4 separate regions of the Homo sapiens genome follow, and all the other regions are linked to region 4. Evidence: fine-mapped expression QTL. A gene starts in region 4. Each other region holds a variant in brackets. All regions are shown on one strand. Distances are between the middles of the regions.

Region 1 (4,158 bases), 21 kb after region 4:
GCTGCCCCGGAATCCCCCCTGCACACCTCTCCTCCTGGTGCCCGGAGGGGGTGCCCACTCTGCTGCCAGGGATTTCCTGAGCAGCTGCTCCGACCACAGCCAGGGAAGAGTCCTTGCAGGAACTCTGCGGGCTGGGCCTGCCCTCCCCAGCCTTGGCATCTTCTTGTTGGTGTCTGAGTTTGAGTCTGTTCTGTGGGCTCTGTGGGAGGTGGGCCCAGCTTCTCACCATGCAGGACCCCTCACCCAGAGACTGAAACCCACTTTGACTAACATGCCTCTGGGTTCCTTCACTGGCCCTGCCCAGTCGCATCCCATGGGAAGAAGGACTGGCTGCTCGGGGTTCTCAGACCCTAGCCTGGGAAAACCAGTCTGAGGGCAGGGATAACCCTTGGCCCTGCCTCTGATTGGGCCCTGAGTTAGGTGGGGTTCTTCCCTGCTGGGGGTCCTGGAGGCATGGGAGGGTTTTGGGGTTCTGTGTGAGAGAGGCCCCAGTCCCTTCAGTTCTCACAGATCCCCCAAGGCTGTGTGTCTGATCCATTGCTTTACATAAGAGAGGAATTGGAGCCAGGCAAAGCCCAGGATTAAAATGGGTGGTGGAGGGGGGAAGCTGTGATTTGAATGTGTCCCTCTAAAAACACGTGTTGGAAACTCAGTCCTCAATGCAACAGTGTTGGGAGGTAGGGCCTAAGGGGAGGTGTTTAGGATGATCCATGGATGATCCATGCAGGTAACAAAAGGCCTCGAGGCTGGGCATGTGTTCTCTCACTCTCTCACACTCTCTTGCCATGTGATGCCTTCTGCCATGTGATGACACAGCAGGAAGGCCCTCACCAGATGCAGCCCCTCAAACTTGGACTTCCCATCCTCCAGAATCATAAGCCGAATCATCTTCTATTTTTTATTTTTTATTTTTTTTGAGACAGAGTCTTGCCCCGTCGCCCAGGCTGGAGTGCAGTGGCATGATCTCTGCTCACTGCATGCTCCGCCTCCCGGGTTCACGCCATTCTCCTGCCTCAGCCTCCCAAAGAGCTGGGATTACAAGTGCCCGCCACCATGACTGGCTAATTTTTGTGTTTTTAGTAGAGATGGGATTTCACCATGTTGGCCAGGCTGGTCTCGAACTCCTGACCTCAAGTGCTCCACTCACCTTGGCCTCCCAAAGTGCTGGGATTACAGGCATGAGCCACCACACCAGGCCTTTTTTGTCTTCTTATAAGGAGGTGAGTTGTATTGAATCAGGGCCCACTCCAATCAGGTGTGACTGCGACTTCACTTGATTATATCTGCAAAGGCCCTATTTCCAAAACGGTTGCATTCATAGGTACCAGGGGTTGAGGCTTTAACATATCTTTTAAAATTTTTATTATTTTTTTGAGACAGAGTCTTGCTCTGTCGCACAGGCTGGAGTGCAGTGGCGCGATCTCGGCTCACTGCAACCTCCACCTCCTGGGTTCAAGAAATTCTCTTGCCTCAGCCTCCTGAGTAGCTAGAATTACAGGCGCCCCCACCCACCCCACCATGCCTGGCTAATTTTTGTATTTTTATTAGAGCTAGGGTTTCACCATGTTGGCCAGGCTGGTCTCGAACTCCTGATCTCAAGTGATCCACTTGCCTCAATTTCCCAAAGTGTAACATATCTTTCTGGGGGACAGAATTCTACCCACAAATTCTAGATAAGGAGGCATTGCTTCTTTTTTCTTCTGGTATTGAATGTCACTTTGGAGAAGTCTGATGTCAAGTTGGTTTTCTTTGCTTTATAAGATACTTGGTCTTTCTGTCTGGCTGCCTAAAGGATTATTTCTTTATCTTCAAAGTCCAGTGATTTTACAAAGGCATGTTTTGTGTTGACTGTTCTGGGCCAACACACACAAGTATACAGCATGCACTTTTACAGGCAGGCGCAAGTCTGCCTGCATTTCAATAAAAGAGGTCTTGAATGATAGTTTCAATCCTTGTTCATCAGGTGCTGTGGTGCACACCTGTGGTCCCAGCTACTCAGGAGGCCAGAAGTTCAAGGCCAGCCTGGGCAACGCTAGCTTATATGAGATCATCTCTCACATAAATCAAGTAGTCAATTGTTCTGATCTGTTAGTTTTGCCTATCGTATGTGTACGCTGGAGCCCCTTTACTGTTTTTTTTTTTTTTTTTTTTTTTTTTTTGAGACAGAGTCTCGCTCTGTTGCCAGGCTGGAGTGTAATGGCACAGTCTCAGCTCACTGCAACCTCTGCCTCCTGGGTTCAAGTGATACTCCTGCCTCAGCCTCCCGAGTAGCTGGGATTAC[A/G]GGCACACATCACCATGCCCGGCTAATTTTTGTATTTTTAGTAGAGACGGGGTTTCACCATCTTGGCAAGGCTGGTCTTGAACTCCTGACCTTGTGATCCAACTGTCTTGCCTCCCAAAGAGCTCGGAGCTCGGATTACAGGCGGGAGCCACCGCGCCCGGCCCTTTACTGGTCTTTTATAGTCACTTTCTCTCTAATCCTTTTTAATCTCTTTCCTCTTTCTTTCCATTTGCTCACTTTTTCCTTTTTTACATGATTTTCGTGGTGTCTCTGCTCTCGTATTACCTGTAACTTCATTTCTTCATTTCTGAAATGGTTTTGTCTTTTTCTTCAGTTTCCTTCCTGAATTCTGTCATTTCCTACCACAGACTCCGCTGCCGTTTGGCCACCTCTTCCCTGCGTTCTTATTCTGTGCTTATTCTCCTCTGTTCTTATTCTGTGCTGTAGTCTCCCTTCGGAGCTGAAGTTCTTGTTGGAATATTAGATCATGATTTTCATCTGGTTTGTGGCAGTATTTGTCTGATGAGATTTCTTCATTTGTAGGAGAATAGCACTGCTTTTATTTTTTATTTTTATTTTTTAAGACTGCAGCTTGCTCTGTGACGCAGGCTGGAGTGCGGTGGCACAATCGTAACTCACTAGAGCCTTGACCTACAGCCTGCACTCGAGCAATTCTGCTGCCTCTGCCTCCGGAGCAGCTGGGGACTATAGGTGCATGCCACCATGCCTGCCTGGGTTTCTTTTTTTATTTTTTTGAGAGAGGGTCTCCCTCTGTCACCCAGGCTGGAATGCAGTGGCACAATCTCAGCTCACTGCAATTTCTACCTCCTGGGCTCAAGCGATTCTCCCATCTCAGCCTTCTGAATAGCTGGGACTACAGGTGCACACTATCGTGCCCGGGAATTTCTTAGTATTATTATTATTTTTTTTTTTGTAGAGACAAGGTTTCACGATGTTGTCCAGGCTGGTCTCGAACTGCTGGGCTCAAGTGATCTGCCCACCTTGGTCTCCCAAAGTATTGGGCGTGAGCCACTGTGCCTGGCCTTTTTTTTTTTTTTAAGTTAGACACTTAGGTCTCCTTATGTTGGCCAGGCTGATCTTGAACTCCTGGCCTCACTCAATCCTCCCGCCTCTGTCTTTCCCACAAAGTGCTGGTGTTACTGGAAAAGGGGGGGCTCTGATCCAGACCCCAAGAGAGGTCTCTTTGATCTCATGCGAGAAAGACTTTGGAGCGAGTTCACGGAGTAAAGTGAGAGCAAGTTTATCAGGAAAGTAAAGGGATGAAGAGGATCTGAGGTCTCCTCCCCTCCCTTTTGAGACCTTATAAGGTAACCTCCAGACATTGCCATGGCATCTGTAAGCTGTCATGGTGCTGGTGGGGGTGTCTTTTAGCAGCTAATGCATTCTAATTGGCATATAATGAGCCGTGAGGACAATCAGAGGTCACTCTCGTGGCCGCCTTGGTTTTGGTGGGCTTTGGCCGGCTTCTTTACTGCAACCTCCTTTATGAGCAAGGTCTTCATGACCTGTATCTTGTGCCGACCTCCTATCTCATCCTGTGACTTAGAATGCCTAACCTCCTGGGAATGCAGCCCGGCAGGTCTCAGCCTCATTTTACCCAGCTCCTGTTCAAGATGGAGTTGCTCTGGTTCACACGCCTCTGGCATTGGGATTTCAGGCGTGAGCCACTGCGCCCGGCCAGCATTGCTTTTGGAAGTGGAGAGCGTGCCCATTCTTGTTACTCGTTTATTTGAATAGGATGGTTGTTCCGGCCAGGAGGTGCTGGGCCACGGCTCCTGGGAGGACCTCAGCACCACTCGCTCCTGTTGGCAGCTGAGCCAGCCCACCTTGAGGTCCTGTGCCTGGGTTACAGCTGG
Region 2 (4,158 bases), 27 kb before region 4:
ATCGTGTCTCGGGCACCCTGGACTCCAACCTGTGCCCGCATGGGGCTTCCATCCCTGGGCCTGAGACTGCCCCGGCCTTGGCCCACTGCCCTCGAGCCACACCACCCATTCGGCTGCCACCCCACGCCCTGTCCTCGTGCTGCCCCTCCTGGTGCTCCTGCCTTTCACCTTCCCTTTTGTCAGAGCAGGAGCCTCTGCCCTAGACCACCCCCTCGGTTCAGCAGGCCCAGGCTGGTCCCTCTCGGCACCCGTGCCACAGGAAGCCTGGAGCGTCCGGGACGAGGCGAGGCCCGTGCAGACCCGATGGCACCGCACACTCACGCCCCACACACGGATGGGACCTGGGCTCAGCCCAGCTACCAGCAGCTCACATGTGGGGTGTGGGGACCTCGCCGTCCCCATGTCCCAAGCAGCCAACGCTGGCACGGGTGAGCATCTGTGACTCTGGGAATACCCGTGCCAGGCAGGCCACGTTATCCCGAACCAACTTAACTGCCTATCAACAGGAAGCTCGTACATCACCGCGGCCCGTCTCTCCCTGTGACGTGCAGCCTCAGCCTCCTGCGTTCAAGTGATCCTTCCCCCCCGCAGTTTCCTAAAGTGTTGGGATTACATGCGTAAGCCACCATGCCCGGCCAAAGTAAGTACACTTAGCAACTTAAAAATACACATGGATCAAAGAAGACATCATACTTGAAATGAGAAAATATTTTGAACTGAATGGCAGTGAAAACACTACACATCAAAACTTAGGGAAATGTGGTTAGTGTGGTACGTTGAGGGAAACTTATAACCTCACGCGCTTGTTTCACAAAACAACAGCAGACAACAGAGATTTCCAACTCCAGCAATGACAGGCTAGGGTACCTAGATGAACCATCACACTGAAAACACATGCTGCAGTAAATACTGAATTTCTCCTTAAGAGCTGTGGGAATCTGACAAGCCAGGAAGGTAGAAACAAGGGAGAAGTGAGGGACCCAGGGGCCCAGGAAGGTCGTGAGCGCCAAGCACCCAGTGCTGCTGCCCCAGGGCGTGGCCAGTCCAGGCTTACGGGGCTCAGGTCCTAGGGGGCTGACCAGCAGGGTGGGGCAGACACCAGGCTCCAGCCCAGCCTCAGGTGAGAGTGAAGGGAGCACCTATCTGCAGCAAGCTGAAGCCCCCAAATCTAGGCCCTGAGGGTGAATCGGTACCAACCCCCTCGCCCTATCCTGAATGTGAGCGGGGAAAGTGCTCACCTGGCAAGATCTGGCCTGCGGCCCTTCAGGGGTCAGCATGACTTGTGTGGGTCAGAAAGCCTCAGCCCCAAACCCGGTCTCAGAGGCTTAAGAACCCTCTCCAGGAGGATGATCCATATAACAGCTCTCAAATAGGCCCCCAAATAATTCTTCACAAACACTTAACAGTTCAGGCCGGGCACAGAAGCTCATGCCTGTAATCCCAGCACTTTGGGCAGCCGAGGTGGGCACATCACTTGAGGTCAGGAATTTGAGACCAGCCTGGCCAACATGGTGAAGTCCTGTCTCTACTAAAAACAGAAAAATTAGGCCAGGCATGGTGGCTCATGCCTACAATCCCAGCACTTTGGGAGGCCGAGGTGGGCGGATTGCCTGAGGTCAGGAGTTCGAGACCAGCCTGGCCAACATGGTGAAACCCTGTCTCTACTAAAAATACAAACATTAGCCCACTGTGGTGGTAGGGGCCTGTAATCCCAGCTACTTGCGAGGCTGAGGCAGGAGAATTTCTTGAACCCAGGAGGTGGAGGTTGCAGTGAGCCAAGATTGCGCCATTGCACTGCAGCCTGAGCAATTGAGATTCCATCTCAAAAAAAAAAAAAAAAAAACCAAAAAACAAAACACACACACACACAGAAAAATTAGCTGGGTATGGTGGCAGGTGCCCATAATCCCAGCTACTTGGGAGGCTGAGGCAGGGGAATCGCATGAACCTGGGAGGCAGAGGTTGCAGTGAGCCGAGATCGCACCAACGCACTCCAGCCTGGGCGACAGAGCAAGACTCCGTCTCAAGAAAAAAATAAATAACAAAGAACAGAAGACAACATGACCCCACAAGTGAACCAGAGGGAAAGACAGGAACAGACCATTGGAGACTTTAGGGATGGTTAGTGATACCAGAGGCTAAAATAATCATGTGCCCTACCA[T/C]GCACGCAGCCATGGTGGCCCGGGTCCTGCCACGCACGCAGCCATAGTGGGCTGGCTAAGCTGCAGGTTGTGCCTGAGCTCACGGACACGAGGAAGAAGGGCGACCGTGTCCTGGACAGCCCAGCTCGAGGCTGCTCTTCAGCCCCAGCCCCTGGTGTCCCGCAGCGGCTGCGGTGGCAGTGGTGGGGGAGCAGGCATGGCACCCGGAGCACTGGAGCCCAATGCAGGGTGACCCCTTCCCCCCAGCTCCAAATCCAGCATCCCTCCCCGGTGCCTAGCCCTCGCCAGGCTGCTGGCCCCATCGCTGGGAAGGAGTGGTTTGACCCCTCACCACTGAGAGGAGTAAGGTGTACTTCCTTGTCAAGCATGACTCCGAGCGGCACTTCTTCCACACCGCGCAGCTGCCTGTGCCTGGCAGGGGCCTCCTGCGGCCGGAACGTCCCCTGCATCCCCAACCACACCTGGCACAACACCATGGCTGAGGTGCGCTTCCAGCTGCACCAGCAGCCCACACGCCTCCTGAGCACCACTACCAGCTACCCCAAGCCCGTCTATACCAGCTACCCCAAGACCGTCTATACCAGCTACCCCAAGACCGTCTATACCAGCTACCCCAAGACCGTCTATACCAGCTACGCCAAGACCGTCTATACCAGCTACCCCAAGACCGTCTATACCACCACCCTGGATTACAACTCGGCAAGATGCTGGGGAGGTTTCTGTTAGGGTGGAGCTGGAAGCCATCAAGTTCCTGGGTAGAGATGACCTTTCAGATGGATGCTGACCCAGCAGGCTGGGCTGAGCTGGGACCAGCTCTTCCACTGCCCTGCTCCGAGCCTGCTCTGGTCAAGGTGGGCAATGCTGCCCTTCATGTACTTCCAGCCCCGGAGGAGCTGAACCTAGAGATACCTGGAAACCCAGCTTAGGGAAGTAAAAAAAAAATCACTGCATCTCATAATTATTGAGATATTTTTAAATTTTCAAGCTTTTTTTTTTTGAGACAGAGTCTTGCTCTGTTATCCATGCTGGAGAGCAATGGCACGATTTTGGCTCACTGCAAACTCTGTCTCCCAGCTTCAAGTGATTCTCGTGCCTTAGGCTCCCGAGTAGCTGGGATTATAGGCAGATGCTGCCACCACTCCTGGTTAATTTTTGTATTTTTAGTAGAGATGGGATTTTGTGATGTTGGCCAGGCTGGTCTCAAACTCCTGGCCTCAAGTGATCTGCCCGCCTCAGCCTCCCAAAGTGCTGGGATTCCAGGCGGGAGCCACCCACACTTGGCTCAAGCTGGGTTTTTTTTTTTTTTTGAGGCGAAGTCTTGCTCTTGTCCCCAGGCCGGAGTGCAATGGCGCGATCTCGGCTCACTGCAACCTCTGCCTCCCAGGTTCAAGCCATTCTCCTGCCTCAGCCTCCCAAGTAGCTGGGATTACAGGTGCCTGCCACCATGCCTGGCTAATTTTTTATTTTTAGTAGAGATGGGGTTTCACCATGTTGGCCAGGCTGGTCTCAAACTCCTGACCTCACGTGATCCGCCCACCTCCACCTCCCAAAGTGCTGGGATTCCAGGCATGAGCCACCGCACCCGGCCGGCTCGAGCTGTTTTTAAGAGGATATATCCTGGTTTGCTGCTGTGTAGTTTCCCCAAAGTCTCAATTTGATGAGAAAATAGAAAGACCACTAGAACGGAAAAATAAAAAATAAAAATTAGATTTCATCAAACTGGAAACCTTTGCTTTCCAAAAGATAACCATTAAGAAAGTAAAATAGCAAGCCAGAGGATCGGAAATTATTCACAACACATATCTGAGGAAGGACTCACACCTAGACCTGGGAATAACGCTAAGACCAGGCTGGGTGTGGCGGCTCCCGCCACCTGTAATCCTGGCACTCCGCGAGGTGGAGGCAGGTGAATCACTTGAGACCAGGACTCCGAGACCAGCCTGGGCAACACAGCGAGACCCAGTCTCTATAAAAAAAACCTTTTCTTTAAATTAGC
Region 3 (4,158 bases), 33 kb before region 4:
CCCTGAGTGTGGACCTGTTCCTGGGAGGGGGCATGGCAGGAAGGCAGTCAGGGTTGGGGTCCAGGAGCCCCAGCTCAGGGAGGAGGGGCTGTGTCCTCAGACAGCGGTGGGGGCCTGTGGAGGCTGGGCTGGTGGTGAGCGACTCGGCGAAGGGCAGGGCATTGGTGCCCTGGCAGGTGCAGTTTTGGGGCCAGGTTGGGAGGGAGGGCCAGGCAGGGAGGCAGTGGGAAGGTACGGATCCCCAGGGTCTCCCTAGAGAAGCCTGGCAGTCACTGGGGACAGAGCCCTGCTGAAGGTTGGGCAGGGCTGAGAGGCTGGAGATGAGGACGGCTGGCCTGGGGTAGATGGGTGGCATCAGGGCCAGTTCTGTGCCTGTTTCCTTGTGGAGTAGGAGCCACTGCGGGCTAAACCTTGGATTCCTCAATCCCTTCTTCCCAGGCAGGTGGCACCTACAGGGGGGCGGGGTCCAGGCAGGCCTGGAGAGGACACCCAGGGTGGGGGAGGCGCCCAGGCAGGCCTGGAGGGGACAGTCAGGGATGGGGGCGGAGCCACAGGCAGGCAGGGGCAGCTTGGGAAAGCCCCCACCAGTCTGCCTTGGCCCTGGGCTGGACACCGATCCCTGCAGTCCAGTGTGCTGAGGCAGCCACCAGACCAGAGGTGGTGGGGCCAGCCCTGCCCCAAGGGTCCTCCTGGGCAGCCTGCTGTTGCCTCCCCGAGGCCACCCGTACCCTTCAGATGTCTTTTACCCAGACAGGGGTGCCCTGGGACACAGGTGTGGGGATCAAGGGGACAGGCCCAGTATCTGCTGGAGGATGTGAATCTTTTCCACAGAGGCCGGGGGCTCAGGAGGGGCGCCTGGGGTCTGTCATGGGACAGAGATGAGCCAGGCCCAAGTGGTAGCGTCGGGCTGCCAGCCCAGGGCGGGGTCTGGGAGGAGAGTGCAGAAGGGCCAGCCGATTCCCGGTTGCTGCTTCACTGAAAGAGTATCCGAGGTACTGGAAGCGATGCTCACAGAAGCCGAAGCAAAATCCAAGTCCCAAGGAGGGGACGGGAGGAGGAGCACTGAGGGCCCTGGAGCCAGTGGCCTTGGGGGAGATACAGATACGGACACACTGCTGGCCCAGCGCTGCTTACAGCCCCCGTGTGACTCCGGGTGGTGTTGGGAACATTCGTCCCCTTTCCCTGCAGTCAGGCCTCATGCTCCTTCCTGCTTCCACCCTCACCCCTCACCGCCCAACCTTGGGAGCAAACTTGGAAGAACGGATGCAATCCTAAAACGAGGTACCAGGCTGCAGGGGGGTGTCCAGCCCCACCGTGGGCAAGCCCCGGCCCTGCCCCTTGGCTTCAAGGCCCCCTTTCCAGACGCCAGGCCCCGGCGCTCCCTCAGCTCTCCCCAGGCCCTCACCCCACCTGCCTCTCCCACCACCCCCTCTTGGCCTAGCCCCTCAGCCATGCCCCCTCCTCTAGGCAGCTGGCCCTGCTGGCCCTGTCCCTGCTGGCCCAGGTGCCTGCCTGGGCACCAGAACTTGGCCGCTATGTTCTGTGGCTCATCTCGATGAAGGGGTCCTGGCATTCCGAGGGGACCAGCCCTCTAGGACCACACATTTGCAGGAGGGGGGTCTCCCCAGGGCCTCAGGGCCAGGCAGGGTTGGGGCAGAATTGTGTTGGTTGCTTTAGTTCATGGAATCAGGTGAGCGAACCCTCGTCGACCTGGGCTCCATCTCGCTCTGTCCCAGCTGCTGCCTGCAGAATCAGCGAGTCAGGTCTCCCTGGCCTCAGTTTCCCCACTGGGAGCAAGCAAGTGAAAGTTCCTCACCCCTAGCCCTGCTGCAGGGAGTGACGGGGACAAGGGTGAGAGGAGCCAGGCAGAGTGGATGTCTGCGGCAGGTGCCGGGCAGCGGGTGGCCACAGGAGAACCTGGTCTGCTGAGGATGCATCCCT[G/T]GGGCAGGGAGGCCCAGCCTTGAGTCAGGCCCCTCCCCTGGACAGGCAGGTGTTTCAGGGAGGCCGACCCTGCAGGGCTGTCACCCGCTGGATCCCAGCCCCCACCTGAATTCTGAGGGCTCGGAGTGTGCTGGGGGTGGGGAGGTCACTGTGGGTGGGGCTTGGCTGTGTCTCCCAGCCACTGGCTCAGGGAATGGGGGGGGACTTGCTGTCACCTCCCCTGCCTCACGTGGCTGTGCGTTCCCTCACGAGGTCCTGATGACAAGAATGGGAGGAGGCACTGGAGAACGGGGTCCTTCCTGTAGAACCTGGGTGCCCACGGTGCGGAGCCCTCAGGCCTGCAGAGGAGGGGCCGGTGTGCGTCCAACCCCCTAAGGTGGGAGCCTGCCTCAAGTCCCACCCAGCCGGGCCTGTGGGGTCCCCTCCTATCCTGCTCCTGCTCTGCCCTCCCCAGCACCAATGGGGTGTGCAGACAGAACCATCAGCTATTAGGAAGGGGGTCGGGGGAAGGGAGTAGCTCCTATGAGGGGGGAGAGGGTGTGGGGCACCTGGGTGTCCTGGAGGGGATGCAGAGGGAGCGTGGGCCTGTGTGCAGGAGAGGAGGGGGTCCCTGGAGCCTGCAGCAGGTGGGGGTGACCCCGGAGGACAGTGAGGGGGAGGTGCTGGGGGCCAGGACAAAGCAGGGCTGTGCTGGCCCGGGAGGGTTAGGTAGAGAAGGTGCTGGGACAGCCAAGGAGGGGCGGTTGGTGGAGAGAGTTGGGAAGGTGCGGGGCGAGGGGCGCAGGGACAGAAGAGTGGGCCTTGGGGGGCCCATGGGGGGGTCGGCAATTCCTGCAGGGGAGGCGGCACAGTGGAGGGGACAGCGCTTCCTTCTGCTCTGTGGGTACTTGGACCAGGAGTGGACAGTGTGGGGGGGGCCTCAGGATGGGGCAGCGCTGGGCCAAAGATGGACGGTCAGGAACATGGAGCGGGAACTTCCAAGGTGCAGGAGAGGCGGAGTGGGGAGGAGGGGCTAGGCAGGGTGGGCAGCTCTTTACTGCACAATCTTTGAGATCTGTGCCCCTCTCGGTCCCCACCGGGGCTTCACAGCCGCTCCCCCCACAGGATCCCCAGGACCCGTGGCTGTGGACAGCCCAGGACCAGAGAGGCCGCGCGGCGAGTCGCCCACTTACGTGAACATCCCCGTCAGCCCATCCTCCAGAAAGCAGCTGCACTACATGGGCCTGGAGCTCCAGGAGGCCAGCGAGGGTGTCCGAGGTGGGTCCCCGCCCTGCGTGGAGGCACTGACAATTGGGGGCTGGGACCACAGCCTCAGGGCCCTGAGCCCCCAGCCCCACCCAGCAGCCCTTGGCCAGGGAGCTTTTCCTACAGCCTCCCCCCAGGAGGCAAATGTCCCCAACTCCATCCCTGGCCAGGCCACATCCCCTGAGGGTGTCCCCACTCAGATGCTTCCGAGGGCCTGGCTGGGGGACTGGTGTGGAGGGCAGGGTCACAGGGCTGGGTGGCTCGGGGCGCAGGCTGCCGCTCACTACAGAATTCTTTCAGGGGCTGGCGCCTCCCTCTACGCCCAGATCGACATCATGGCCACCGAGACGGCGCACAGAGTGGGGGTGCGGCACGCACGGGCCCGGGAGGAGCAGCTGTCGGAGCTGGAGCAGAGGAAGGCAGCCCCGCAGTGAGGTCACAGCGCCAGGAGCTGACCGCAAACCCGGTGCGCTGTGCGGCCCCGTGGCCCCCGGCAGGCCAGCCCCTTCTGTTGGGCGTGGTCTGGTCCCCAGGGAGCTCCCAGTCGCAGGAGCAGGCATGGCCGGTCTCCGGGCCATGGTGCAAACAGGAAGTTTTCAGGGCCCACGGCCAGGCCTCCTGCCTCACAGGTGTCCGGGGCTGACCCTTCGGCCTGAAAGAGTTGCTCTGGACCCCAGGCTGACTGAGGCCCTGCTTCCAGGCATCAGGCAGCTCTGGTAGCTGCTGTGGCATCTCAGGCAGAGGCTGCTGCCCAGGAGTTTGGGAGCATGGTTTGTGGTGCCTGGGATGCAAACCGCCCTCTCACCCTGGGGGTGACTGCATGGATGACAGCCGTGTCCTGGCAAAATGCTCATCCCTTCACCTGGGTGTTGTGGCCCTGCAGAGCCAGGACCCAGTGCCCGCTCCCACTGTCGGCACCATGCCCGCTCCTGAGACTGGCGGCTCAGACACTCCCGGAATCCCCTCCCCGCC
Region 4 (4,158 bases):
TACCTAGAGCGGCGAGTCAGGTGGGGTAAGAAGCCGACTGGAGTGACTATTTGCACGAACAATTCTCTCCCCCTACGTTTGAACTGACTGTGGCTCCTCCTGCCTCCTGACCACCCTGGGCCCTGGCACGCTCGGCAGAAAGAGCCACAGCACAAAGACCACCCGGGATGCACTACCGCCACTGAGAACCTCAAAAAGACCCGGACGGGTCTGACGCCTGCACACTTGGCTCCAGGATAGAACACCCTCACAGCACCGCCACCCTCCAAGCTTCCGTTATCTGGAAGGAAAATCAGGACGAATGGGCTCTGCAGGCCTGCCTGCCATAGTACCAGGCTCTCTGGAATGGGGGAAGACACACAAAATCCCCCAAAACACCCTCACCCCCGAAGAACTTCACGTTCTGTTCAGCAAAAAAGACTTGCCCACACAACTAGAACTTCAGGACTTAAAGGGACCAGAAAGATCATCTAGTCCAAGGCTCAGTCCAAAGTGGAGGTGAGCAGCTCGCCCTACCATGGTGCCCAGTGAACCTCAGGGAGGTTTAGGAGACATGACCCAACCCAAGACTGAAACTGGTCAGGCGAGCACCCAGCACCGGGGGACAGTGCAGGGGCAGCCCGAGGGTAGCTGGACCAGTGCAGGGGCAGCCTGAGGGCAGGTGTATTGCTGCAGGAGGCCTGGGCTGACAAAGACAGAGGACCAGCTGGAGGTGGCTGGAGGTAAGGTGGAGCGCACCAGGGCGGCCCTGCAGAGCAGGTGGAAGACTTGGGCCAGCACCCAAAAGGGAGCCGCTGGGGTTCCTGGGTCCGAGTGCACTTCCTCAGCGCCACCTCCAATCGGTCAGGGAGTCTATTTCGGGCTCCCCATTCCTCATGGGGAGGGGGGACTCCACCCACTCAACAGATGCCCAGTGCAGTGGGCACGGGGAGGCAGCACTGCATCCCGGCTGCTCCTGGTCACACCTGTTCCCTGCTGCTGGGAGGCCATCAACACATCCAAACCCAGCCGTGTCCCCAGCCCCTCCAGAATCCCTTCCTCCAAGAAGCCGCCCTGCCGCTCCAGCCCAGAGCGTTCTCCCACCTCCCACCTCCGCAGGCTGAACATTACGCCTGGGGCTTGACTGCTGGTCCCAGGAGCAGTTCAGGAAGGGCCTGTGGAGCTGATGCCCAGGCGTCAATCCCCATCCCCACGCAGTCTTATAACCGTCTGTCGTCTGTCTGTCCCCCACCTGTTTCTCCTCTCCCTTTTCGTTCCAAAAGTTCCTTCTTATTCTGCAAATCACTTACTTTCCCTCTCAAAGACTCAGGAATGCTTAAAACTGGACTATTGAGACAGAGATCTAATCTGACTCCTGCATTTGAGATGAGATAATGAGGCCCAGATGGTCGGCATAGTTCGAAAACACCCATTTCAGGTGTTTTCAGGAACACCTAACAAATGAAGCAACCGTATCTTAATGAAGAGAGCAGCTGGCCCAGGGTCACGCACCAATTAGGAAGCTGTTGTCCCGGGGGGCCCCACCGGCCGAGCCACCTTGGGGGTGCCCTTTCCCCTCGGGGCCTCCGTACCCTCATCTCTCAAATGAAGGAGAGGTCAGGTGAGCGCCCTGTTAAGACTGACTTTCAGCATTCCCAAGGTCGCGTTTTATGTGCTCTAAACCGATCCCATCTCCTCACCTCCTCATTTCTCGCTCAAATGAACAAGCACGGGCTTGCTACTGGGATTCCTTCTGTCCCTGGACACGTCTTTCTACCCAACATTTTGTTTTTCTTGTTTCCCCACATAGGGAGATAAGGTTGAGGGAACAGGCAAAGGCTCGGGAGGCAGGAGACCTGTGATCTAGCCTGGTTCTGTCCCTACGCTCGGGTCAGCAGGCCGCCCAGGCTGGGGAGGGCGACACTGACCCTCGGGGTGCCGGCCGCCACCTGCTTCACACGGCGTCGTCGCCGGCACGGGTACCTTTCCTGCTGCAGAAGGGGTCGGGGCGCCCCACCTGACACTTGGGGGAGGCTGTGCCAAGGACAGGGCGCGTAGGGCACAGGTGCCCCGGCTGCGCCCCCCTCCGCCTCCGACCCCTGGGCCCCGCTCCAACGACCCCAACCACGGCCCCCGCCCCCAGGCCCCGCTCCACCGACCGCGGGCCGCGCTCACTCGCTGGGCCTTCTCCCACAGCTGGTTCAACTTCTCCATGCGGAACTCCTCTCCGGACTCGCGTTTCGGGGACGGCTTGGGCTGGTTCTTCTCCCGCGAGTACTTGCCGCCGTGGCTCGCAGCGGGCCAGGGCCCGAGGAAGAGCAGCAGCAGTAGCAGCGCCGGGAGCCCGCGCAGAAACGACCTGACCCTCCGCGGCGCCATCTTCCTCTGCGACTGGCGCTGCGCGGAGAAAACCTAGCCTGCCGATGCCCCGCCCACTACCCCGCCCCCACCCACCGCGCGGTCTCCTGGGAATTGTAGTTCCTCCGTGAGCGGCCGGCAGCGGCGAGGCCGCCGGCGGACTCCAGCGCCTAGGAAGCCCTGCGCAGGCGCAAGCGTTTCCCAGGCAACCACGCCGCGGCCCGAGGCTGCAGACTCTGGCAGGGGATACAACTGGAGAATGAGGGTGGCCGGGTGGGAGCAGGGATCAGGCCTCACCCAGAGCCCGGAGCCTGGAGCCCGCACGACTCGAGGCCTCTTTCCCTCTCTGCCCCACAGAAAGAGCGGAAAGCCCAAGAACCGGGCCGCGTTTGGCTGAGCCTGATAATGCTCCGGCTTCACGCGCACTGACGCCGACTCTTGCATGTCCAGTGCCGTTGCGGGGTTGGCACTGCGGCCCGGGCCTGGCGCTGAGGAGCCTGGCCCAGCCCGCTTCTGCCCTCCGCGGAGCGCCTGGCCGTGGGTAAGCCCAGGCCAGGTTGTCCCGGGGACGCAGGGCCGCGCAGACGTCCCCCTACGTCCCGGGGCCCCTGCCCCAACCCGCGTCCCAAGCGCCTGCTCTCGCGCCTGCTGCAAGGCAGGACTTCGCGCGCTTTTCCCCAACCCATGACACTCTAGGAAATTCACAGAGCCAAAGTTAGCATAGACCGCTCGTTGGGGGCTTGGCCAGTGAGTTGGGAAGTGCCCTGGAGGTAGCGCGGGAAACAAGGGGAAGGAGGGAGACAGACAGCAGCTGGGCCCCTTTGGGCTCAGAGAAGGGACAAGGGGAGCTCATCTGGCAAGAATGATCTGAAAAGGCCTCCAAGGGTGGGCGGGATTTTGCGGGGGGAGGGAGGAATTTCCAACTGGAGGGACAATGACAAAGGGGGTGAATAGAGCCTGGGCATCTTGAGAGGAATTAATGTTAATTCATTTCCTTTTTTTGCGTGGGGGGATAGGGTCTCTGTCATCGAGGCTGGAGTGCAGTGGCATGATCATGGCTCACTGCAGCCTCGACCTCCTGGGCTAAAGCGATCCTCCTGCCTCAGCCTCCCAAGTAGCTGGAACTATAGGTGCGTGTCACCACGCCCAGCTAATTTTTGAAATTTTTTGGTAGAAATTAGGTCTCCCTATGTTGTCCAGGCTGTTCTCCAACTCCTGGGCTCAAGCAACCCTCCCGTCTTGGTCCCCCAAAGTGCTGGGATTACAGGCGTGGGCCACTGGGCCTACCCTAATTTACATTTAAATTGTATCTTGTGTTGTTCCAGAGAAGATTTCAGGTCCCTGGAATCAAGGTGATCTGCTTCTGTCCTGTGCTGCTTTTCTAGTATTTTCAGAGCCATCGTTTCATTTCTTTTTTTCCAGCTGTTGAGTTGTTTCAGGCAAGAGGGTAAATTCAGTCTGTTACTGCATCTTAGCTGGAAGCACAAGTTCCCAATATGGGATGTATGGGGGAGAGGAGGTAAAGGAATCCCCCAGGAGGGTGGTGGAGGGAGAATGACCTCATGCGAAGTGACTCCAGAGACAGATCAAATGCTGTCATTGCCATCATTGCATGTTTTTAAGCCTCAGGACAGAATGGCCAGGTGAGCCTGGCCTAGATTCTCACCTGTGCCTGCCTTCCCCTTGTGTTCCCTCGTTCCTGCTCTTCTCTCCATCTCCTGGTGCCTAGAATCAGAGGTCACCTGTTTTACCCCACATACATGTTTTGCCCTGACCCCACTCCTGAGAGCTACAGGTAGGTCTTGGTGGGCTTAGAAGGGG

Direction of the effects. Positions count from the first base shown, and alleles are read on the strand shown. Sizes are in standard deviations (SD) of each study's normalised expression. Not every link is listed here.
For the expression in sun-exposed skin of the gene that starts at base 2,368 in region 4, allele C in region 2 goes with a higher level than allele T (small effect, 0.23 SD a copy in GTEx).
For the expression in activated CD8 T cells of the gene that starts at base 2,368 in region 4, allele G in region 3 goes with a higher level than allele T (large effect, 1.1 SD a copy in Schmiedel 2018).

Evidence for each region. PIP is the estimated chance that this variant, and not a neighbour inherited with it, causes the effect.
Region 1: its variant is the best candidate, but not a certain one, in a credible set for the expression of LRPAP1 in whole blood (INTERVAL, PIP 0.66).
Region 2: its variant is the best candidate, but not a certain one, in a credible set for the expression of LRPAP1 in sun-exposed skin (GTEx, PIP 0.56).
Region 3: its variant is the best candidate, but not a certain one, in a credible set for the expression of LRPAP1 in activated CD8 T cells (Schmiedel 2018, PIP 0.81).

What each region holds. Positions count from the first base shown.
Region 1 is chr4:3,551,547-3,555,704 of GRCh38, forward strand. No RefSeq gene overlaps it. Among named protein-coding and RNA genes, the nearest start is that of LRPAP1, 21 kb to the left of the region's middle. The variant A/G (reference allele first, on the strand shown) is at 2,282.
Region 2 is chr4:3,502,922-3,507,079 of GRCh38, forward strand. It overlaps LRPAP1 (LDL receptor related protein associated protein 1), which reads right to left. Exons shown (of 8, transcript NM_002337.4): 8 at 691-4,158. Among named protein-coding and RNA genes, the nearest start is that of LRPAP1, 27 kb to the right of the region's middle. The variant T/C (reference allele first, on the strand shown) is at 2,163.
Region 3 is chr4:3,497,206-3,501,363 of GRCh38, forward strand. It overlaps a transcript of DOK7 not described here. Among named protein-coding and RNA genes, the nearest start is that of LRPAP1, 33 kb to the right of the region's middle. The variant G/T (reference allele first, on the strand shown) is at 1,942.
Region 4 is chr4:3,530,055-3,534,212 of GRCh38, forward strand. It overlaps LRPAP1 (LDL receptor related protein associated protein 1), which reads right to left and starts at 2,368. Exons shown (of 8, transcript NM_002337.4): 1 at 2,155-2,368. The coding sequence starts at 2,358. RefSeq lists silencers at 1,858-2,107, 2,548-2,607 and an enhancer at 2,148-2,357.